Linked DNA regions of Homo sapiens: region 1 is linked to region 2. The links come from fine-mapping of genetic effects on gene expression. A gene starts in region 2. The other region holds a variant in brackets. All regions are shown on one strand. Distances are between the middles of the regions.

Region 1 (12,936 bases), 66 kb after region 2:
TTCTTCAGCCTCTCAGGGCTTCACTTTTACCATCTGTAAAATGGACAATAATACAGACCTGACCAAGTGGATTTTAATGGCAAAATTTAAAAAAAGTGTTGTATAAACTATAAAATGCTATGTAAGGGAAAGGAATTGCATTTGGAGACAACCCATGACTTGTGATGGAAAGTCCAACTTGGGTACAAGATGCCTGTACATTTCAAATAGGCTTAAAATCTGGGATGTATCTCCATATACCATCTCAGATAACAGTATTATGGTATCAGTATTTCTCTTCAGCCATTGTGCAGTGCTGTCATTATGCCAGGAAGTTCTTCCACTGGCTGTGGAACACTGCCATGTAGTACATTCATTATCTCAGCGTTTCACCAGCCTACTGATCTTCCTCTTATGTTAGAGATCAGCTTTGAATCTCTTGTTCCGGCTTACCTGTTGACATGCAGTCGTTGGGTCTTCCATGGCCCTGGGGCTCATCCAGGGGGATGAGGAGTTCACCAATGGGCTAAACTCAAAAGCTGGTCTGCAATGAGATCTCCATCCTGTGGGTGTAGTTTGAATTTGTGTGCATACTGTAGGTTGAAGGAAGATAGCTCAGGAAATGTAAAACAGTCCTAGGTAGAGGTATCCAAGGCATAGAAGGAAGACAAAGCATGGCATTAGGGGAATGACATTTGAAAATCCAATGATGGTTTTGTGGGGGTCTTTCTGTGCTTGAGCATAGCTGTGCTAGCAGTGAACTCTACCGAAGGTTTAGGCCAAGTAGATCTGATTTGAAATATTATGATTCGTTTTATTTAGAGAGTTTAATGAAAGGTGAGTAAATATTTTTCTCTTATTACTTGGAAGAAAGAAAAAAGAATTGAAGTGTGTCAGAGCTCTCTGGAAAACGTTGGAGCAATATAAATAATGCAGTGAAATAAACAGTGGAGGGGGAGGGGAAGCAGGGATAATGTGAAGATGCCTTTATTGCAAAACTGGAAAGGTCGGCTGATTTTGACCTGAATAGCAGGTCTCATTTCAAGACATGTTCAGTTTTCCATCTGTTGTTTGCACAATGATGTTAGAATACAAAGCAGCTCAAAGAAAAACTTGAAGGCCATGTGGTAGCAGAGAAGACAGATGGAAGAAGCAAGGTTGCAGTAAGAAGACAAAAATGAATGATTGACTCTGCTGTTCACCTGGTCTTCAGTCTTAGTGGTTGGTGGAAACAATAATGCTGACATGTTAACCCAGAATGAGAAGGTAGAAGTTTGAGGAGAGAAAGAAAGCAAGAGCAATGGTACTTACGTTATTGGCAGCATAAATATTTGCAGTGGCACTCAACAATTTTACAATATCTAGATTCAATCTACACAATAGTGAGAAGAAAACTTTTTTTTAAAAAATAGCACCACGTTGGAACTAGTATATTTTCCTTTTTACAAAGTTTATGCATTCTCAGGTTTTCAACAGGTAAGTACTGCACAAAGACACATAACTTAGTTTAACAACAGAGTCCCATTCTTTTGCATTTTACTTACCACTTAGGGCATGCAGCAAACATCTTACTGTGCCAGACACTGTGCTGACATTGGGAATCCAGTGGTGAAGAAAGCAAATGTGAGCCCTACCCTCTTGGAGCTTATAGTCTAGAGCCTTAGAAATCAATTTTTAAGGTTAATTTACTTTATATTTTTAATTAAAAAGGAGTATGTGTGCCTTGCACAAAGATACAAATATTTTCTAAATGTATAAAATAAAAATTGAAAGTTACCCCCCATTCTTAACTCCCGCTAGTTCATTTAAAAAACAAAACCAAAAACTTAATCCCCCTCAACAAGAAAACTATCAGTTGTCTTCATAACTATATTAAAATTTTAAATTTCTTCAACATAATTAAATTTTTTGACCAGGCATGGTGGCTCACGTCTGTAATCCAAGCACTTTGGGAGGCCGAGGCGGGGGGATCAATTGAGGCCAGGAGTTCAAGACCAACCTGGCCAACATAGTGAAACCCCATCTCTACTAAAAATACACAGATTAGCCAGGCATGGTGGCAGGCACCTGTAGTCCCAGCTACTTGGGAGGCTGAGGCACGAGAATCACTTGAACCTGAGAGGCAGAGGTTGCAGTGAGCCGAGATTGTGCCACTGCACTCCAGCCTGGGTGCCAGAGCGAGACTCCATCTCAAAAAAAAAAAAAAATTACTGTAATCATAATGGTCACCCAAAACAATTCATTTTAATTAAATCACTGGTCTGAAGTTTAAGATACTGTGATGAAATATTGATTACTCTTTCTTAGAATGCTGAAGCTGCATCTCACCCTTCTCCAGCCAAGTGTACATGCACATACTCTTCCTCACTGCAGTCTCTATACCTCTCACTCTCACACAAATGGAAGAAGAATGTGGGTTTCATGTATATGCAATTGTTTATTTACCTGTTTGACTTTGTAATGTGTTTTAATTCTGCAGAAGAACCCTGTCGTAGTTTTGTAGGCTTTTCATAAATCCCTAGGCAAAGAAGGAAAGCTTCTGACCTTTTTTTCCCTTTCATAGGAAGACATACTGGGAAGAAAATGTTAGTGTTTTAGTATACTGTATTCATGACTTGACTTTGATGTGGAAGTCGATACTGATCAAGAGCTTAAGGATTGTATAAATCATTAAAGCTGTGGTCTTGCCACATGGAGGTTGATGGAAAATATTTTTGTCCTGAGTTTTATTTGCTGACTTTTTCTGTTACATGATGGGTGAAGTTGTTGAACAAACTAATATGAGGGCTTTAGCAAATCATTTTGCAGTTCAGAGCTTTCAGTTAAGTTATAATGTAAATTTTAAAATGCTGTTAAAAATCTGAAAAGGTGAAGCTCTATTATAAAATTGGTAGGCCAGATTTCAGAGTTTACAAAAACATTTCATACTTGGAATCACTCACTGGCCAAATTGGGTAGAGTGTTAAGGAAAAGAAATAACAGGTAAATAGAAATCAATATTATTTTCAATCATGTAAAGTTGTGAGGATTTGATGAATAACATATAAATTGCTTAATACAGTGCTCAATAAAATATACTGTCTCCCTTCTCCCCTTTACCCTTCTACTGTTAACTACTTTTATCACTAGGGAGAAACTAATTAGTTTAAAACAAAACATTAGATCTAGCAAATAGTAGAGGAACTTAGCCAGATGGTTAAGAGCTTGGGCATGTAAATCAGATATGGGTTTAAGTCCTGGTCTTGTCACTTACGTGTGTTCTTGGGAAAGTTGCTTAACTTCTTTGAGCCTCAGTTACCTTATTAGTAAAATTAGATGATAGTAGTGTCTACTTGATAGTGTTGTTTTAAGGATTATATGATATAATGAATGTAAAATGATTCCCACCATATCTATCACATAGTGTTTAGTAAATGTTACCTATTCATAGTAGAAGCACTTTAATAGGATTGATGTAAGGATTAAAATAATCCATATAAAATATTTAGTGGAGTACACAAGGTAAATTCTTGAGAAATATTAGCTACTACTATTAATATTAATGTATCTTAAAGCAATAATAAAATATTAAAAACTGAAGAGTAAGACCAGCTTATTGTATAAATATCTTGTTGGGGCAGGAGTAAAGGTATTAAAGATTATATAAAAGGAATGAAATCATAGCAATCACTACTTCTAAAACTTATAGAAGTCAGAATTTGCCTTTAATGATTTAATAAAAATTCCATGTACTTTTCTTTTGCTGAAGTTACAGTTGAGGAGGTATGTGAGATTGATTGATATATACATTCTTGTAACAAACTTTTGCAGATGTTCATTGAGCAAAACAAGCTAAAGAGACAAAGCCACCTTCTGCTGCAGAGCTCCATCCCTGATCAGCAGCTTTTGAAAGCTTTAGACGAAAATGCAAAACTCACCCAGCAACTTGAAGAAGAGAGAATTCAGCATCAACAAAAGGTAACCCATTTTCTTCTGGAATCTTAGGTACACACACACATACATGCATACACACATATATTTAAGATGAAGGGAGCCAGTGCAGTCAGTCCAGTCATTTACTGTTTCATATTTTGCCTTAGTTACTAAGTGCTTTCAACCACCTTTTAGAAAAAAATAACTAAATGAACTTAATGTTGTGAAACTGAAATTTGTAATACGCTATTATAGACTTTATAATAATCTTTAAACTGTCCAAAGGGTCGGAAGAAGCAAGGGAAAGAGGTATAACTTAAAAACAGCTTGGATAAGGCAAAGTCTGGAAATTCAATTTTTGGAAATGTTATATTTTTTGGAGACTGCACACACTAAGAGGCTGTATTCAACTCAGAGCACTTGTTGGAGGGCATAGGTTTTATTCAAAGAAAATGACAGTCCGTATTAGTAGTAATTGTTTGCTTAGAGAAAATTTTTGATTTTGTAAACTTGCACAAATGTGTATGTTTAAAGACTTCCTAAGTGATTATTTCAATTTGATGAGTGGAGCTATTCCAGCTGACACAGCCTACCTCTGTGTGCCAAGAAGAAAGGATAGTCATTGTGGTAGGTGAGAGGAGAAGCAAAGAAGTGGAACAAAGACTTCCAAATTAAAGAGACCACTTAAGAAAAATTACATCAATGTTTATACTACTTATAATGTACCTCATTTGGGAAGGAAAGGCTGTTAGCTGCTACTTGTTACCACCTGTCAAAGCCTCTGTGGCAACAGTATTGACATTTAATCCTTGGAAGTTCTGAAGTTTTTACAAACTTGGTGGTGAGGTTGAGTTGATTTGTTTTGCCTCAATAAGAAATGTTGATATATGGTGGCTGGTAAGATGGCCGAATACGAACAGCTCCGGTCTGCAGCTCCGAGCGGGATCAACGCAGAAGGCGGGTGATTTCTGCATTGGGTACCCGGCTCATCTCACTGGAACTGGTTGGACAGTGAGTGCAGCCCATGAAGGGTGAGCTGAAGCAAGGTGGGGTGTTGCCTCACCCGGGAAGTGCAGGGGATTGGAGAACTCCCTCTCCTAGCCAAGGGAAGCCACGAGAGACTGTGCTGTGAGGAATGGTGCTCTCCAGCCCAGATACTACGCTTTTCCCACCATCTTTGCAACCCACAGACCAGGAGATTGCCTTGGGTGCCTACACCACCAGGGCCCTGGGATTCAAGCACAAAACTGGGTGGCCATTTGGGCAGACACCAAACTAGCTGCAGGAGTGTTTCTTCATACTCCAGTGGCACCTGGAACTCCAACAACACAGAACCATTCACTCCCCTGGAAAGGGGGCAGAAGCCAGGGAGCCAAGTGGTCTAGCCCAGCAGATCCCACCCCCACGGAGCCCAGCAAGCCAAGATCCACTGGCTTGAAATTGTCGCTGCCAGCACAGCAGTCTGAGGTCAACCTGGGACACTCGAGCTTGGTGGGGGGCAGGGTGTCTGCTATTACTGAGGCTTGAGTAGGCAGTTTTCCCCTCACAGTGTAAACAAAGCCACCAGGAAGTTCGGACTGGGCCGAGCCCACTGCAGCTCCGCCAAGCTGCTGTAGCTAGACTGCCTCTCTAGATTCCTCCTCTCTGGGCAAAGCATCTCTGAAAGAGAGGCAGCAGCCCCAGTCAGGGGCTTGTAGATAAAACTCCCATCTCCCTGGGACAGAGAACCTAGGGAAAGAGGCGGCTGTGGGCACAGCTTCAGCGGCTTAAACGTTCCTGCCTGCCGACTCTGAAGAGAGCAGCAGATTTCCCAGCGCAGCGCTTGAGCTCTGCTAAGGGACAGACTGCCTCCTCAGGTGGATCCCTGACTCCCATGCCTCCTGACTGGGAGACACCTCCCAGCAGGGGTCTACAGACACCTCATACAGGAGAGCTCCAGCTGGCATCTGGCAGGTGCCCTTCTGGGATGAAGCTTCCAGAGGAAGGAACAGGCAGAAATCTTTGCTGTTTTGCAGCCTCCACTGATGATGCCCAGGCAAACAGGGTCAGCAGTGGACCTCCAGCAAACTCCAGCAGACCTGCAGTAGCGGGGCCTGACTGCTAGAAGGAAAACTAACAAACAGAAAGGAATACATCAACATCAACAAAAGGACATCCATGCAAAAACCCCATCCAAAGGTTACCAACATCAAAGACCAAAGGTAGATAAATCCACAAAGATGAGGAAAAACTAGTGCAAAAAGGCTGAAAATTCCAAAAACCAGAATGCCTCTTGTCCTCCAAAAGATCACAACTCCTCGCCAGCAAGGGAGCAAAACTGGACAAAGAATGAGTTTGACAAATTGACAGAAGTAGGCTTCAGAAGGTTGGTAATAACAAACTCCTCCGAGTTAAAGGAGCATGTTCTAACCCAACGCAAGGAAGCCAAGAACCTTGATAAAAGGTTAGAGGAATTGCTAACTAGAAAAACCAGTTTAGAGAAGAACATAAATGACCTGATGGAGCTGAAAAACACAGCAGGAGAACTTGGTAAAGCGTACATAAGTATCAATAGCCGAATCGATCAAGCAGAAGACAAGATATCAGAGATTGAAGATAAACTTAATGAAATAAAGCATGAAGACAAGATTACTGAAAAAAGACTGAAAAGGAATGAACAAAGCCTCCAAGAAATATGGGACTATGTGAAAAGACCAAACCTACGTTTGATTGGTGTACTGGAAAGTGATAGGGAGAATGGAACCAAGTTGGAAAACACTTTTCAGGATATTATCCAGGAGAACTTCCCCAACCCAGCAAGACAGGCCAACATTCAAATTCAGAAAACACAGAAAACACCACAAAGATACTCCTCGAGAAGAGCAACCCCAAGACACATAATCATCAGATTGACCAAGGTTGAAATGAAGGAAAAAATGTTAAGGGCGGCCAGAGAGAAAGGTTGGGTTACCCACAAAGGGAAGCCCAGCAGACTAACGGTGGATCACTCTGCAGAAACCCTACAAACCAGAAGAGAGTGGGGGCCAATATTCAACATTCTTAAAGACAAGAATTTTCAACCTAGAATTTCATATCCAGCCAAACTAAGCTTCATAAGCGAAGGAGAAATAAAATCCTTTACAGACAGACAAATGCCGAGAGATTTTGTCACCGCCAGCCCTGCCTTTTAAGAGTTCCTGAAGGAAGCACTAAACATGGAAAGGAAAGACTGGTACCAGCTACTGCAAAAACATACCAAATTGTAAAGACTAATGACACTATGAAGAGACTGCATAACCTAATAGCAAAATAGCCAGCTAGCATCATAATGACAGGATCAAATTCACACATAACAATATTAACCTTAAATGTAAATGGGATAAATGCCCCCAATTAAAAGACACAGACTGGCAAATTGGATAAAGAGTCAAGACCCATCGGTGTGCTGTATTCAGGAGACCCATCTCACGTGTAAAGACACATAGGCTTAAAATAAAGGGATGGAGGCATATTTACTAAGTAACTGGAAAGCAAAAAAAAAGCAGGGGTTGCAATCCTACTCTCTGATAAAACAGACTTAAAACCAACAAAGATGAAAAGAGATAAAGAAGGGCATTACATAACGGTAAAGGTATTAATGCAACAAGAAGAGCTAACTATCCTAAATATATATGCACCCAATACAGGAGCACTCAGATTCATAAAACAAGTTCTTAGAGACATATAAAGAGATAAAGACTCCCACACAATAATAGTGGGAGACTTTAACACCCCAC[T/A]GTCAATATTAGATCAACGAGACAGAAAATGAACAAGGATATTCAGGACTTGAACTCAGCCCTGGACCAAGCAGACCTAATAGACATCTACAGACCTCTCCATCCCAAATCAACAGAATATATATTCTTCTCAGGACCACATCGTACTTATTCTAAAATTGACCACATAATTGGATGTAAAACACTCCTTGGCAAATGCAGAAGAATGGAAATCATAAACAGTCTCTCAGACCACAGTGCAATCAAATTAGAAATCAGGATTAAGAAACTCACTCAAAACTGCATAACTATCTGGAAACTGAACAACCTGCTTCTTAATGACTACTGAGTAAATAACGAAATTAAGGCAGAAATAAATAAGTTCTTTGAAACCAATGAGAACAGAGATACAACATACCAGAATCTTTGGGACACAGCTAAAGCAGTGTTTAGAGGGAAATTTATAGCACTAAATGCCCACAGGAGAAAGCAGGAAAGATCTAAAATCGACACCCTAACATCACAATTAAAAGAATTAGAGAAGCAAGAGCAAACAAATTCAAAAGCTAGCAGAAGGCAAGAAATAACTAAGATCAGAGCAGAACTGAAGGAGATAGAGACACAAAAAAAATCCTTCAAAAAAATCAGTAAATCCAGGAGCTGGTTTTTTGAAAAGATTAACAAAATAGGTAGACTGCTAGCCCAACTAATAAAGAAGAAAAGAGAGAAGAATCAAATAGACACAGTAAAAATGTAAAGGGGGAGATCACCACCGATCCCACAGAAATACAAACTACCATCAGAGAATACTATAAATACCTGTACACAAATAAACTAGAAAATCTAGAAGAAATGGATAAATTGCTGGACACATACACCCTCCCAAGACTAAATCAGGAAGAAGTGGAATCCCTGAATAGACCAATAACAAGTTCCAAAATTGAGGCAGTAATTAATAGCCTGCTAACCAAAAAAAAGCCCAGGATCAGATGGATTCACAGCTGATTTCTACCAGAGGTACCAAGAGGAGCTGGTACCATTCCTTCTGAAACTATTCCAAGCAATAGAAAAAGAGGGACTCCTCCCTAACTCATTTTATGAGGCCAGCATCATCCTGATACCAAAACCTGGCAGAAACACAACAAAAAAAGAAAATTTCAGGCTAATACCCCTGATGAACATCAATGTGAAAATCCCCAATAAAATACTGGCAAACTGAATCCAGCAGCACATCCAAAAGCTTATCTACCACAATCAAGTCAGCTTCATCCCTGGGATGCAAGGCTGGTTCAACATACACAAATCAATAAATGTAATCCATCACATAAACAGAACCAATGACAAAAACCACATGATTATCTCAATAGATGCAGAAAAGGCCTTCGATAAAATTCAACACCCCTTCATGCTAAAAAGTCTTAGTAAACTAGATATTGATGGAACTTATCTCAAAATAATAAGAGCTATTTATGACAAACCCACTGCCAATGTCATACTGAATGAGCAAAAGCTGGAAGCATTTCCTTTGAAAACTGGCACATGACAAGGATGCCCTCTCTCACCACGCCTATTCAACACAGTATTGGAAGTTCTTGCCAGGGCAATCAGGCAAGGGAAAGAAATAAAGGGTATTCACACAGGAAGAGAGGAAGTCAAATTGTCTCTGTTTGCAGATGACATGATTGTATATTTAGAAAACCCCATCGTTTCAGCCCAAAATCTCCTTAAGCTGATAAGCAACTTCAGCAAAGTCTCAGGATACAAAATCAGTGTGCAAAAATTACAAGCTTCCTATACATCCATAATAGACAAATAGCCAAATCATGAGTGAACTCTGATTCACCATTGCTACAAAGAGAATAAAATACCTAGGAATACAACTTACAAGGGATGTGAAGGACCTCTTCACGGAGAACTACAAACCACTGCTCAAGGAAATAAGAGAGGACACTAACAAATGGAAAAACATTCCATACTCATGGATAGGAAGAATCAATATCGTGAAAATGGCTGTACTGCCCAGAGTAATTTATGGATTCAATGCTATCCCTATCAAGCTACCATTGACTTTCTTCACAGAATTAGAAAAACCTACTTTAAATTTCATATGGAACTGAAAAAAAAGCCCATATTGCCAAGACAATCCAAAGCAAAGAGAACAAAGCTGGAGTCATCACACTGCCTGGCTTCAAACTATGCTACGAGGCTACAGTAACCAAAGCAGCATGGTACTGGTACCAAAACAGATACGTAGACCAAAGGAACATAGCAGAGGCCCCAGAAATAATGCCACACATCTACAACCATCTGATCTTTGACAAACCTGACAAAAACAAGCAATGGAGAAAGGATTCCCTATTTAATAAATGGTGTTGGGAAAACGGGCTAGCCATATGCAGAAAACTGAAACTGGACCTCTTCCTTACGTAAATCTTATACAAAAATTAACTCAAGGTGGATTGAAGACTTTAATGTAAGACCTAAAACCATAAAAACCCTAGGAGAAAATCTAGGCAATACCATTCAGGACATAGGCATGGGCAAAGACTTCATGACTAAAACACCAAAAGCAATGGCAACAAAAGCCAAAATTGACAAATGGGATCTAATTAAACTAAAGAACTTATGCACAGCAAAAGAAACTATCATCAGAGTGAACAGGCAATCTACAGAATGGGAGAAAATTTTTGCACTCTATCCTTCTGGCAAAGGGCTAATATCCAGAATTTACAAGGAACTTAAACAAATTCACAAGAAAAAAAAATCTCATCAAAAAGTGGGCAAAGTATATGAACAGACACTTCTCAAAAGAAGACATTTATGTGGCCAACAAACATATGAAAAAAAGCTCATCATCACTGGTCATTAGAGAAATGCAAATCAAAACCACAATGAGATACCATCTCATGCCAGTTAGAATGGCGATCATTAAAAAGTCAGGAAACAACAGATGCTGGAGAAGATGTGGAGAAATAGGAATGCTTTTACACTGTTGGTGGGTGTATAAATTAGTTCAACCATTGTGGAAGACAGTGTGGTGATTCCTCAAGGGTCTAGAACCAGAAATACCATTTGACCTAGCAATCCCATTACTGGGTATATACCCAAAGGATTATAAATTGTTCTACTATAAAGACACACACACACATATGTTTATTGCAGCACTATTCATAATAGAAAAGACTTGGAACCAACCCAAATGCCCATCAATGATAGACTGGATAAAGAAAATGTGGCACATATACACCATGGAATACTACACAGCCATAAAAAAGGATGCGTTCGTGTCCTTTGCAGGGACACGGATGAAGCTGGAAACCATCATTTTCAGCAAACTAACACAGGAACAGAAAACCAAACACTGCATGTACTCACTTATAAGTGGGAGTTGAACAATGAGAACACATGGACACAGGGAGGGGAACATCACACACCAGGGCCTGTCGGGGGGTGGGGGCAAGGGGAGGGATAGCATTAGGAGAAACACCTAATGTAGATGACAGGTTGATGGGTGCAGCAAACCACTATGGCACATGTATACCTATGTAACAAACCTGCACATTCTACACATGTATCCCAGAACTTACAGTATAATAAATAAATAAATAATAAAAATAATTTTAAAAGGAAATGTTGATATATATGTAGAGTACCTCTGGATGGACAGGTGGTAACAGTCCCCTGGGAAAGAGAACTGGAGAATAGGGTGGGAGGGAAAGAATTTCATTCTTTCTTTTGTCCCCATATGTAGGAATTACCTTTTCAAGAAAAGAGAAAAAGAAGAATGTGTTTTTGTTTCAGTTTATGCTAGAATTTAACTTTTGGTTCTGAAAAGTCCAGCTACTTACAGTTAAATCATTTAGTAAATAATACGTGCCTAGAACCTACTGAATTGAGCTGAGGTATAGGACTAAATTGTTGTATATATACCTTGTTGGGTACTAAAGATTAAAGTTATCAATGAAATTATAACAATCACTACTTCTAAAACTGTTATACTCTTTGTATATACAGTTATTCTTACAGTCTTTCATGTACAGATGATCCTTGACTTATGATAGGGTTATGTCCTGATAAACCCACGTTAGTTGAAAATATTGTAAATCAAAAATAATATACCTAACCTACTGAATATTATAGTTCAGCCTAGCCTACCTTAAACATACTCGGAACACTTAACATTAGCCTACAATTGGGCAGAGTCAACTGGAAATACAGTATACTCTAGAGCATCAATCCCCAATCTTTTTGGCACTAGGGACCAGTTTCGTGGAAGACAATTTTTCCATGGACTGGGGAGGGAAGAGGGTGGGGGATGGTTTTGGGATGAAACTGTACCACCTCAGATCATCAGGCATTAGATTATCATAAAGAGCGGCCAACCTGGATCCCTCGCGTGTGCAGTTCACAATAGGGTTCGCGGTTCTGTGACAGTCTGTTGCCGCTGCTGATCTGACGAGGTGGAGCTCAGGCGGTAATGCTTGCTCGTGCCTGCTGCTAACCTTCTGTGCAGCCTGGTTCCTAACAGGCCATGGACCAGTACCAGTCCAAGACCTGGGGGTTGGGGAACCCTGCTCTAGAGTATCAGTTATTTACTCGCATGATCATGTGACTGATTGGGAGCTGTGGCTGGCTGCCGCTGCAGAGGATTGTTGAGAGAGTATCTTATTACATATTGCGAGCCTGGGAAAAGATCAAAATCCAGAATTTGAAGTATGGTTTGTATTGAATGCATGTCGCTTTCACACCATTGTAAAGTCGAAAAACTATCTCAAACCATCCTAAATTGGGGACCATCTGTATGTCGCTTAAAATGTTTCTTAGCTGTCTGTAAGTTCCCTTGCAGATGCAGCAGTCTTTTAAGCACAGCATATGGTTTTTGCAATTATAAAAATAGCATATGCTCCTTATAATACATTTTTAAAATACAGCAAAAGTTAAAGAAGATTAACCAAGTATCCCATATTTTGGTGCATAGCTGAACTTTCTGTAAATATATACCTTTATAAATATAGTTTGTTTAAATTGAATCATACTATGCATACTATTTTATGCCTTGATTTTTTTTCCATTGGTAATATATCTTCTCATGTCAGTATATAGTAAGCTATGTGATTTAAAAGTTGCATAGTATTTCATTGAATAAACATGCTATAATTTATTAAACTAAAAATATTGGTGGACATTTAGGTTATTTGCAACTTTTTGCTGTTGTAAAGAATACTTCAGGCCAGGTGTGGTGGCTCACGCCTGTAATCTCAGCACCTTGGGAGGCCAAAGCAGGTGGATCACTTAAGGCCAGGAGTTCGAA
Region 2 (12,936 bases):
TCAAGGTGTACAGTTACCTTATTGATTTTGTATCTTTCTTTTATAATGTAGTAATTAGAACTATAAATTTCTCTCTGAGCACTGTCTTCACGGTATTCCATAAGTTTTTTTTTTCTTTTCCTTTTTTTTGAGACAGTCTCACTCTGTCGCCCAGGCTGGAGTGCAGTGGCGCGATCTCGGCTCATTGCAAGCTCCGCCTTCCGGGTTCATGCCATTCTCCTGCCTCAGCCTCCCAGTAGCTGGGACTACAGGCGCCCGCCACCACGCCCGGCTAATTTTTTGTATTTTTAGTAGAGACGGGGTTTCACAGTGTTAGCCAGGATGGTCTCAATCTCCTGACCTCGTGATCTGCCCGTCTCGGCCTCCCAAAGTGCTGGGATTACGGGCTTGAGCCACCGTGCCCAGCTTGTATATATGTTTATAGTAATTATATATTCTTACCGAATCAACCCTTTTGTGAATATAGACTTTTGTTTATTGTAACAGTTTTTGACTTAAAGTCTGTTTTGTCTGATATTAATATAACCACCCCAACTCTCTTTTGGTTACTAATTAAATTTTTTCCTACCATTTTGCTTTAAATCTATTGTTGTCTTTGGATCTAAAATAAATATTTTGTAGACATCATATAGTTAGATCATACTTTTTTTTGCATCCTGCCAGTGTTTGCCTTTTGGAGAGTTTAAGCCATCTTCATTTAAAGTTACAGTTAATAAGAAATGACTTATTTCTGCAATTTTGCTATGTATTATCTATATGTCTTATAGCTCTTTTGCTCTTCATTTGCTTCATTATTGCCTTATTTTATACTTAGTTTTTAAAAAAATGTGTATGTTTTTGGTAATCATTTTGACTTCTTTCTCCTTTCCTTTTGTGCATATTTGGTTGATATTTTCTTTTCTTTTCTTTTTTTTGAGACAGAATTTTGCTCTTGTTGCCCAGGCTGGAGTGCAATGGCACGATCTCGGCTCATTGCAACCTCCTCCTCCTGAGTTCAAGTGATTCTCCTGCCTCAGCCTCCTGAGTAGCTGGGATTACAGGCATGTGCCACCACGCCCAGCTTATTTTTTATATTTTTAATAGAGATTGGGTTTCTTCATATTGGTCAGGCTGGTCTCAAACTCCTGACCTCCGGTGATCCACCCGCCCTGGCCTCCCAGAGTACTGGGATTACAGGCGTGAGCCACAGCGCCCGGCCAATTCTATAGTTTTGAGTATATTCAGAGAATTGTACAACCATTACCACAATTAATTTTAGAAAATTTGTATTACCCCAACAATTAACCACACACCTATCAGCAGCCATTCCCTGTTTTCTCCCAGACCTCCCCTACTTTCACCCCACCTCAGTAGATACTCACCAATCAACTTTCTCCCTCTATGGATTTGCCTGTTGTGATCATTTTATACAAGTGCAATCATACAATATCTGGTCTTTTCTGATCAAGTTTTCACTGAGTATAATGTTTTCAAATTTCATCTGTGTTGTACCATATATCAGTACTTTATTTTTATTACCAAATAATATTCCAATATTGCCATTTTCATATGATAATTAACATTACATTAAATAGCTCTGTACATAAGCCTTTTAGGATAGATTCCCTGATATAGAATTAGTGGATCAAAGACAGTGAACCTTCTTCTCCTCATTGTATTTCAATCTTATTTATCTGTATACCTCAAAAGATGACATATGTGATTTTACTTTAATTACCTGAAAAATTAAATAAAGATTAAAGAGAAACTCCTTCTTGACCACTGCACTTTCACACTCCAACCCCCACACCTTGGTCCTGTTCCCCTACTTTCTATCCCTAGAGACAGCCATTATCCTGAGTTTGGCACATATTCTTCCAATTCATTTTTTAAAAGTCTGTCCTTTATCTCTATGTATATATTTGTATATATATATGTAAACACACACATTTTTAAGGGTTTTAAATGACCTGTTATTTGGAGGTCAATAGTAACTCCAACGTGATGCCTGCAACATAAATCACTATGTATATTATTATTATTGAGATGGAGTCTCGCTCTGTCACCCAGGCTGGAGTGCAGTGGCATGATCTCGGCTCACTGCAACCTTCGCCTCTCGGGTTCAAGTGATTCTCCTGCCTCAGCCTCCCGAGTAGCTGGGACTACAGGTGCCCGCCACCACACCCAGCTTTTTTTATTTTTAGTAGAGACAGGGTTTCACCGTGTTAGCCAGGATGGTCTCAATCTCCTGACCTCGTGATCTGCCCGCCTCGGCCTCCCATAGCCATCACTCTGTATATTATTAAACGGAACAAAAACTAATTTATCACTTCTATCCTTTCCATCAATATTCATATCATATAAATAAACAATAGTGTAATGGGAGAACTGAATCCCAATAAGGACTCTAATAGCCCTCCTAATAATTCATACCATGTCCTCAAGTGAATGCCATATTGTATTTCAGGAGTTTTTTTTTTTTTTTTTTTTTTTTTTGAGATGGAGTCTCACTCTGTCACCCAGGCTGCAGTGCAGTGGCAGAATCTCAGCTCAGGAGCCTTTTCTAATTTTAAGGAGGATAAATGGGATTAATTGCAAGAGGCCGCAGATTTAGTATGGAACCAAAAGTTTGATTATAGATTTGATAATTAACTCATTCTTAAACTCCAGAAATACTATCTAACTACTGTATAATTGGAGTAGACAAATCAGCCATTAAAAAAAAATGGAACTTTGTGAACTAAGCCAAATATTTAATGGGCACTCTGCTTGTATTTGGTAGAGTGAGAGAGAATGAGTCAGGATGACTCATCAGGTTTAACAGGTTTCCCAACTGCTGGACAAAAGCTAAATGTCCATTATTTTTCATTAAAATCTCCCGGATTTTTTTATTATTATCTCCTGGGGATCTTCATGGCAGCTATCTGCAACTATCTTGAATTATCTTACGCATACCTAGGGAAAGGGCTGAATAATACAATCCCATATCAAAATTATTTTTAAACTTTAAACATTTTAATACACTGTATTAAAAAATACTATGCTGCCCTTTTAGATCATTCTACCCCTAAATCACTCATGCTAAAGTACTATATTGCCATTTTAGAGAAAGAGAAAGCAGTGCTACCATTTTTTTTTTCAAAATTTTAGTTAGCATGTAGTGAGTATCAGAAAGACACTAGTTACAGGATTTACCCATATCTCAACCTCACTCTACAACTATCATGGAGAAATGAACACAAGAAATGGAGCTGGGCACTTCCATAAAACAGCAATTGAGGAATGAGCAGCACTGTGCTGTTGCTGTACCCAAACTAAGAGCTTAGAGGTAGTGAGAAAAACCAAGCTGTGCAATAAGTCTAATTCAGTTTGGACTTATCTCCCATGCTTAATGATCAGTGTAAAAGAACTGCAACCTTCAGCTTATAGTCAGCAACCACAACCCCTTTCTCACAGACCTGTAATTTTTTTTTTTTTTTTTTTTTGAGACGGAGTCTCACTCTGTCACCCAGGCTGGAGTGCAGTGGCGCGATCTCGGCTCACTGCAAGCTCCGCCTCCCGGGTTCACGCCATTCTCCTGCCTCAGCTTCCCGAGTAGGTGGGACTACAGGCGCCTGCCACCACGCCCGGCTAATTTTTTGTATTTTTAGTAGAGACGGGGTTTCACCGTGTTAGCCAGGATGGTCTCGATCTCCTGACCTCGTGATCTGCCCGCCTTGGCCTCCCAAAGTGCTGGGATTACAGGCGTGAGCCACTGTGCCCGGCCACAGACCTGTAATCTTTATTAAAAACAAAAAAACAAAAAAAAAACAAAAAAAAACTGCATTATAAATTCTGGACTTGGTGTTTTGTTAATCTTCCTCTATTAAATCCTTACAACTCTTCCTTGAGAGTAGGTATCACTATTCTTCCTATTCTTCAGATGAAGTTCAAAGATGCAGGAGACTTGACCAAAGGTTAGCTCGCAACTAGGGGTTGGGGAGAAGCACCTTTGAAACAATGCAGACCTGCCACTTCTCTCCTGGGCATGGTCTAACACAGACATGAGTTCAAATAGTTCAGAGGGCAGTGAACTGGGACAAACGCTTGGCTTAACTGCCAGCCTCTGCTGCCCGGGGGCTGCGTGACCTTCGGCATTCGGACTGCAGTGGCACCCTCTCTAAAGGGAAGGTCATCCCGCCACCAACCAGATGATCTGCAAGGGCCCTCCAGGCCCCACCATCCACGTGCAGCAGGGTCCACGTTCTGACCACCTGGCAAACCTGGTGCGATGGGGGAAAGCTAGCCAGGGCCCTCCTTCACTCACGGCATGGTCATTTAAGTAGCTGGGCGGCCTGATTCGATCCTTGTCTCCTCTTCAAGGTGCAAAATGTACCACCCTGGGCCCGCCCCTGTGGGCAGCTAGGTTTTGCAACCGCGCCCCCAGAGTCTACTGCGGGAAAACTAGGGAAGAAGCCCAGGCGTTCATGGCTCATTGCGTCCCGCTCTACCTCTGTGGTTCTTTGGGAGCGACCCCCGGGAAGCGTCCAAAGTGGAGTTCCCACACACGCTGCGAACCCACAGCCGGTTTTCTCTGAACTCGCGTCCCTGAGTCCGGGAGGTGGAGGCGGAGAAAAGGGTGCGGAGCGACCCCACGCAGGGCCGCCCCCCCTCCCACCAGCGCGTCCTGCCGCGCCGGCAGCCACAGGCTGGCATAGCGGCTGCCGACCCGCCCTCGTTCCTCCACCCCCTGAACGGGACTGCTGGGCCCGCCCCGCCCCGCCTGCAGGTGAAGCGGCCGCAGCCGCCGAGTAGGTGCGTGGGGATGATCTCACTCGCGCGCTCCGCGCCAGGAGGAGGAGGAGCGGGAGCGGATCCAACTTCCGGGTAGTGGAGCCGCAAGCCACCGGCATCTTGCTTTTTCTTCCCCCTCCTCCTGTGTGCCCCGCGCCGCTCCCTCTTTCCCTTTTATTCCCGGCCCCACCCGCCAAAATGAACAGCTCGGACGAAGAGAAGCAGCTGCAGCTCATTACCAGTCTGAAGGAGCAAGGTAGGCAGCACGCGGGCGCCAGGTGTGGGCAGCCGCGGCCCGTGGGCGGGGACGGCCCCAGGGCGCTGGGGCCAGGGCAGTTGGAAGCCGGGCGGGAGACGTGGCGGCCGCCGTGGTCACCGCAGTAGCTCCGTCACCCGCAGAGAAGCGTCCTCCGTGGCCGGCGCGCCTGGGAAAGCTCTGGACCGAGGATAACGCGGAGTGTCGGGGCTAGTCAGGCCCCGCAGCTCGAGACCCGCTGCCCGCTGGTTGCGTTTGCTGGCGATCGGGGGCTGGGGGAAGGGACGAGGATTCAGTGCGGACGAGGTTGCACAGTGCCACCTTCCTTGCCGGAGAAGCGGGTGGGGCAGGATATTTTGGCTGCTTTGGGCGGCTCAGCTAGCTTGGCCCCACCCTTACACATTTGTTGGCGCTGGGTGGCCTGTAGGGCTGTTTCACACCCTTCCCAGCTTTTCGTTTGGATTCGGTCTAGTTCCTCTTTCCTTGCCCAGCTGGGATTTTCAGGCCATAATTTTTTTTTTAATCACTTCTCAATTTTAGCAGTTTATTAGTCAGCAAGGTCAACATCCTGCCAGTGTTGAGCTTTCAGAATTAACAGGGTTGACGCTGGGCGAAGGAGAGCCAGGCCATGCGCACGCATTTCTGTACTGCTTGGTAACTGGGGATTATCCTTTAATAAAGACCTGCTTCAGTCAATCATTTTTTTCATCAGTTACCACACTTCTGAACCAAACCAGATCAACAACCAAATGCTAACCTATCACATTTAAACACTTATCATTATTACCCTGACCAAAGGGTGGTCTGCGAATGTGGGTCAAGACAGGGAGGAACCAGCCGGGTGCGGTGGCTCACGCCTGTAATCTCAGCAATTTGGGAGGCCGAGGCAGGTGGATCACCTAAGGTCAGGAGTTCGAGACCAGCCTAACCAACATGGAGAACCCCTATCTCTACTAAAAATACAAAATTAGCCGGGCGTGGTGGTGCATGCCTGTAATCCCAGCTACCCGGGAGGCTGAGGCAGGAGAATCGCCAGGAGGCGGAGGTTGCGGTGAGCCAAGATGGCGCCGTTGCACTCCAGCCTGGGCAACAAGAACGAAACTCCATCTCCAAAAAAAAATAATAATAATAAATAATAAAGAAATAAAGGGAGGAACCATACAGATTTAAAGGAAGTAAAAATGTGTAGGAACATGTACTTTTCTGAATGTCTTGCTGACAAGACCATGTAATGGAAGGATCCCTGCTCTGTGGCAAAACCTGGTATTTAGTTGCAGCTCTTTCACTTCTCTTGGCCCAGCTCACCTGCTCTGTGAACTTGGAGGAGTCTCTTTCCTTCCGTGGATCTTCTGGTCAATCAAGGCCGACCTGACTAAAGGCGAGGGTGAAACTGGAGGACTTTCTGAGGTCCTGTCCAGTACTCTTACCTGTTGTTGCGTAAAACCACAGACACCGTTGGGAAGTGCTCCCGGATTCCTCTGAAGCCACACTCTGGCAAACAAATTTCAACATTACTGTTTACTGTGTGACCCTGGGGAAATTATTTAACCTCTGAAATGGACATAACACATTCTTCTGTGATATCCAGCATCTAGAAAGTGCTGGATAAATGTTAGTCTCTTTGGCCTTCCCAGCACCTTTACCTGGCATCCTAGATTAGCCTGAGGTCATAAAGTCACAAGCATCAGTGAATTTAGTGGGTGGACAGAATGCCTTTATCTGAAGTTTCTCAAGTGTTTTAGCGAGGGACTGGATTCTACTGACTGGTATTTTATATTTAATACACCTTCGCCCAACCCAAAACATTAAAACTTGATTCATATTCTAGATTTGTGGAGCTTTCATTATAGGTAATATCTGTCAGTGGATATCAGATCTTCTTATGGTTGGTCAGTTTTCGAATAATGATAAACATAAAAAAATTTTCCCTTTCATTTCTTGTATAATCAAGGGTCGATTAACAATGTAGATAATCTGCAAATTGCTTATATTTGATTTCGGAACACATTCTCCATTCCTATGTTGGGTTTGAGGCCTGACAAAAAGGATTTCTATATTTGTGGCTCTTTCTCCTATTGCATTGTATTGGAAAATAAACAAATCCTTGGCATTGGTATTTTTAGAGGATATATTTCCTTGATTAAGTGCATATGAAAGGTAATAGAACAGTTAGATATTCAAAGTTGTGTTTCTTAAAAGGTACACTTTTGGGGATAGTGAGTCTAGTTACAAAGGTGTTGGGATTTTTTCAGCCCACAGTGTGATTTTTATACATTTCAAAACCAGGTAGTTTGCTTGTCATTGGATCACAGACTGTGGAAACAATTTACTTCAAAAGTGTTCAGTTACTGTTTGACCTGTAGAACTAATTGGGAAGCTAGGGATTTGGAAGAACAGGTAACTGGGTCTTTGAGCATTTAACAGTACATACTATGATCAATTTTGTAAGCTGATGGTTGCATGGTTTATTTTTGAAAATAGTAATTTTTACTACCTGTTACTACCTTTTTACTCACAATGTTAATATTCTGAGTGATAATTCCACTACCCCTATTTAGTGTGAGCAAGAAGAACCACTATTTATCAAATATGTTATTTTCCCTTAATAATGCTGAGTAAACATATTTATTCATTCCTTCAACAAATACTTATCAAGTACCACCATATGTCAGGTCCATGTGGTAGGCACTAGGGGTGTAAATAGTGAACTACACAGTCCTTGTCACCAAATTAATTTTCTAGAAGAGAAGACAGGTACTATTCAAGTTATCATATGAATAAATGTACAATTACTTTTTTATTCTAGGATAGATTCTTAGAAGAAATGGAATTGTTGGATTAGAGGGCACGGACATTTACTTTTGCTAGACATTGCAAAAGTGCCCTCCAAAATGATTATACCAGTTCAGATATCCTTCAGCAGTACCCATTTCCCCACACATTGGTCAACTCTGGCTAATAGCAATCTTTATTCATTTGATGGCCTGACAAGTTTTTGAATTTTTGCCAATCTAATGGGCAGAATGTTACCTTTTAAGATTTGCATTGCTCTGGTTATTAGTGATGTTTGAAATCTTTTTACATGGCCATTGGCCATTTAGGTTTCATCATATGGGTCCTTCCTTAGTGATTTTTTTTTAAACTGATACATGAGACTTGTACATATTTATAGAAGACATGGGGTATTTTGTTACATGCTTAGAATGCATAATGATCAAGTCAGGGTATTTGGGATATCCATTACCTCCAGTATTTATCATTTCAATGAGTTGAGAACATTTCAAGTCCTCTCTTCTATCTCTTTTGAAATATATAATACATTGTTGTTAACTGTAGTCACCCTACTTTGCTATCAAAATGTTAAAACTTACTCCTTGTATCTAACTATGTTTGAACCCATTAAACAATCTCTCTTCATTTTGCCCTGCCTTAGTAAGTTTTAAGTCTAAAACTTGAACCAGTTCCCCAGGAGAGTGTTCAGAAAGGAGATTCCTGTCTACTCTAAACCACAAAGCTGACAGCAGCCTTCCCTAACGTGAAGCCTTTAGTGGTGTGGTGAATAAGGTTGCTTTTGACAAAAGTTGTGAAATGTAATGACGGAGTCTGTCATAATATGAACAATCTCTAATTTATACTTACCATTCCCTAAGCTCTATGTCTTATAAATCACACCCACTTCTGAATTACTTCAAAACATTTTATGTTCCCTCCTAGTGAATGGTATAATTAGCTATATTATGTCTTTCCAGAAAGTTATATTATGTCCCTTTAAAAAAAATTAGCCAGTGTGTGATTGCTTATGTTCAAGCAGATGTTGAGGTAATGAGGTAATTCTCCTTTTGTCTTTTTTGGGGCTTTATTTTATTGGACTGATTGACATCTTTAATGCACCGAGAAATGGCAACTTTGGATACTATTTCCGAGGCATATTTCCTAGCTACTAAAGTGGATATTTCCCTTACAAAACATCATACAATTTGCTCCCCCTCCGGAATTCAGTGGGAAAATGATAGACTTAGTTCAGCATTTGTTTAAGGTGCATGATTTTCTGTATAATTCATTCAGCCCACATGCATTGAATATTCATAGCCAGGCACTGTGCTAGGCATCAGAGAGATAGAGCTGAATAAGACCTTGCCTCTGCTGGTGAGGAGTTCCTGGTCTAGAGATAGTGCTAGGCATGTAAATTCCAGGAGGAGTGTCTGATTGGCCTAGTTTGGCCAATCTCATGTATTCAAATACTTTGGCCACGGGAGGGCAGGATACTTTAATTGGCAGCCCCTGCAAAGATTGGAGGAATAGTCCAAAACAGAATGGGGTGCACTACCATGAGGATGCTGACCGGGCAGACACAGACAACACATGTCTGCTAAACTGTTCAGTGTAGTAATGCCATGTCATTTCCAAGTTGATGAAATTTTGAAGAGAGATGGCTATTTAATAATAAGGACATACATAAGAGGAAAACAACCACCACCACCCCAATAATGGGCAATTTTTGGGCTAACAGTATTTAAAATGGATTTCCTATGGTGAGGTAATTGGTTTTAAAGCAATTTTAAACCTCTTTTCACCTTTAGAGTTAGTATCGTTTTCCCCAAGATTATTGAGATGATACTTAAGTTCACATGGAAATCTAGTCAAGCTTATTCTTAGAGCAAGTTAGTAATTAAAAGATGCATCCAGTATTCCATTGGCTTCTAGGCCAGGAAATAACTGGAGCATTATTTTGACAAAACAGTCTGAAACTATTGCCTACCACAATGACCACGTCAGTCTGGGAAAACGGAAGCATTGACAATCTTGGGTGCATATGAGATCAGCCAGTAGAAAGCTGTTTGGAATTAAATGTTGCCTTGTTTTCAAGTGCAAACTTGGTTTTACATCAGTATTTTTCAAAGTGTGGTACAAGGGCCAGCTGCATCTGAATCACCAGGTACTTATCAACAATGCATTTTCCTCTGAAAGTTAGGGAGTGGTTGCTGAAGAACAACAGTTTGGCAACCCCCCATGAGATGAACATGCAGTGTGGGCTAAGGAACTATGTCTTCTAGTCAGAATTTCACTATTTCCTTAATATTATTTATTTATTTATGTATTTATTTATTTGAGACAGAGTCTCACTCTGTCACCCAGGCTGGAGTGCAATGGCGTGGTCTCGGCTCACTGCAACCTCCGCCTCCCAGGTTCAAGCAATTCTTCCGCCTCAGCCTCCCAAGTAGCTGGGACTACAGGCATGTGCCACCACACCCGGCTAATTTTTGTATTTTTAGTAGAGATGGGGTTTCACTATGTTGGTCAGGCTGGTCTCGAACTCCTGACCTTGTGATCCACCCGCCTAGGCCTCCCAAAGTGCTGGGATTACAGGCGTGAGCCACCGCACCCAGCTGTGAACCTTTTTTAAAATAAATGCAAAAATAAACACATGCTCATAGAAAACAAGTGTGTAAAGTGAAAAGTACAATTAACTATTCTATCTGACCCATTGTTTCTCAATCTTTATTTCATTATCACTCTCCTAAGGAAACTTTTTAGGCGTTTTATGCACTGTGACTCTTTGAAGGGCCATAAGCCATTGTAATATCCAAGATCTTTTCTCTTATCTCCTTGAGGATGAAATCACTACATTGACAATGCATGCTATGACCCCATTCCCATTTCCCAAAGTTAACTACTGTTAACCTTTTGTTTTCTTTCCTTCCAGAAATTGTGTTTGTATGTGCATATGTATTTATCATGTAATATGTAATTTTTTATATTAGTACATGTAGCGTTGTCATTAAAAATTGATTAATGTTCCAATGTACAGACGTACCACAATGTATTTAATGTCCTCTGGATGGACATTTCTATCTTTCTTTCCTTGTTTTTGCTATTACAAATAATGCTTCTGGGCTGGTTGTGTTGGCTCACGCGTATAATCCCAGCACTTTGGGAGGCCAAGGTAGGAGGATACCTTGAGCCCAGGAGTTTGATACCAGCCTGGGCAATGTAGTGAGACCCCATCTCTCTAAAAAGAAAATGCTTTTGGCACTGGATTCATGTTGGAGACATCAGTGTGAACTCATGTTTAGCTTAATACAGGTATGGATGGTTACACATATATATATATGTTGGTATATACATATATTTTCTTGCTCTGTCAGCTGAGAGAGCCTAGATGCACCAGTATCAATGAGCACATCTAGAGCCCAGAACTTGGCTTCTAATGCCATTCTCGAATAAAACGAACAGGGTTCCTAGGAGAAATGGCTAATTTTAGGAAAGGGGCAGGAAATATACAAGATGAGCCTAGGGCATCTTGTAGTGTGGAAACTAAGGAAATGCACCAACTGATAAGCTGACATTGATGGAGATACTGTAGTCCCTGCTTACCCATGGAGGAAGCTATGTTTCAACACCTGCAGTAGGTGCCTGAAATCATGGATAATAACAAACCCTATATATTCCAAGTTTTTTCCTGTGCATACGTATCTGTGATAAAGTTTAATTTATAAGTTAGGCACAATAAGAGATAATAAAAACTCATAATAAAATAGAACAATTATAACAATATACTGTAATAAGAGTTATGTGAATGTGGTCTCTCTCTCTCTCTCTCAAAATATCTTGTGGTACTGTAGTCATCTATTTTCATACCATGTTGACCATGGGTAACTGAAACCCTGAAGAGTGAAACGGTAGATAAGAGGGAAACTACTGTCTGTCAGAGACACAAGAGCCGATGGAAAGAACATCCAATGTCCAAAGACGGAACTCTGAACAACAGAATATTGGATTATAATTCAAAATTTGAAGTAATATTCATGAGTTGATACTGATATAAATAAATGATTAAAGACAAATCTCCCATGCAGAGCAATTCCAAATAATTTATGTAGATGTTCCCCCTCAAAGCGGTGTATCTTAACTCCCTGATTCTTTTTTTTTGAGACAGAGTCTCGCTCTGTCCCCCAGGCTGAAGTGCCGAGGCATGAGCTCTGCTCACTGCAAGCTCCGCCTCCCAGGTTCACACCATTCTCCTGCCTCTGCCTCCCGAGTAGCTGGGACTACAGGCGCCCGCCACCATGCCTGACTAATTTTATGTATTTTTAGTAGAGACAGTGTTTCACCGTGTTAGCCAGGATGGTTTCGGTCTCCTGACCTCGTGATCCACCCGCCTCAGCCTCCCAAAGTGCTGGGTTTACAGGCGTGAGCCATCGCGCCTGGCCCTAACTCCCTGATTCTTAAGTGTGGGCAGCACATAGTGAATTCCTGCCAAAGACTACAATATGGAAAAGGGGGAACCAGTAACTTTACAGTGGAGAAACCTGACAAACACTATGTCAGCTAGATGATCAAGGCCAACATCAACAATGATGATAGCATGATAGTGTGATGTGATGAATTGGCGTTTTACCTCTGTGGTCTTCCCCTAAAAACCCATAAAGCCAGTCGACTCATGAGGAAAATATCAGCAAATCCCTATTGAGAGACGTTCTGCAGAATACCTGATCAGCACTTCTCCCAACTGTCAAGGTCATAAAAATGAGTAAAGTCTGAGAAACTGTCATAGTCAAGAGATGCCTTAAGGATTGAAGGGTAGAAAAAATAATCTGTCCCTCAAACCTTGTAAGTTCATAATTGGGACAGATACCTGTAACAAAAGACATGAACAAGCAAGTTTATTAATGCATGCAGTGCACATCGCAAGGGAGAAAAATAAGCAGTGGCTCAACATACTGTCTTCAACAAAGAACTATACATTTAGAAAAGTGTTAGGACAAAGGAAAGCAGTTCCAGGCTTCCAAAGGCAGGAGAATGTGGGAAGGTGAGTTTATGGGGAAACTCCTGGGGTAAAGTCTACTCGCAGATTTCTCTGCCACCATCTCTGAGGTGATATGGGTTGTAAAGGAGAATGGGTATCTTGTTTTTAGGTGGGAAATGGG

Which allele goes with the higher level. Alleles are on the strand shown, and positions count from the first base shown. SD is a standard deviation of normalised expression in the study named.
In carriers of allele A in region 1, the expression in fibroblasts of the gene that starts at base 4,843 in region 2 tends to be higher than with T alone (small effect, 0.38 SD a copy in GTEx).

The links. PIP is the estimated chance that this variant, and not a neighbour inherited with it, causes the effect. A credible set is the group of variants that fine-mapping cannot tell apart.
Region 1: its variant is the best candidate, but not a certain one, in a credible set for the expression of SHTN1 in fibroblasts (GTEx, PIP 0.61).

The regions. Positions count from the first base shown.
Region 1 is chr10:116,931,466-116,944,401 of GRCh38, reverse strand. SHTN1 (shootin 1) reads left to right here. Exons shown (of 17, transcript NM_001127211.3): 9 at 3,790-3,936. Among named protein-coding and RNA genes, the nearest start is that of SHTN1, 67 kb to the left of the region's middle. The variant T/A (reference allele first, on the strand shown) is at 7,647.
Region 2 is chr10:116,997,094-117,010,029 of GRCh38, reverse strand. It overlaps SHTN1 (shootin 1), which reads left to right and starts at 4,843. Exons shown (of 17, transcript NM_001127211.3): 1 at 4,843-5,008. The coding sequence starts at 4,951. RefSeq lists silencers at 4,667-4,746, 4,977-5,086, 4,958-5,252 and an enhancer at 5,067-5,760.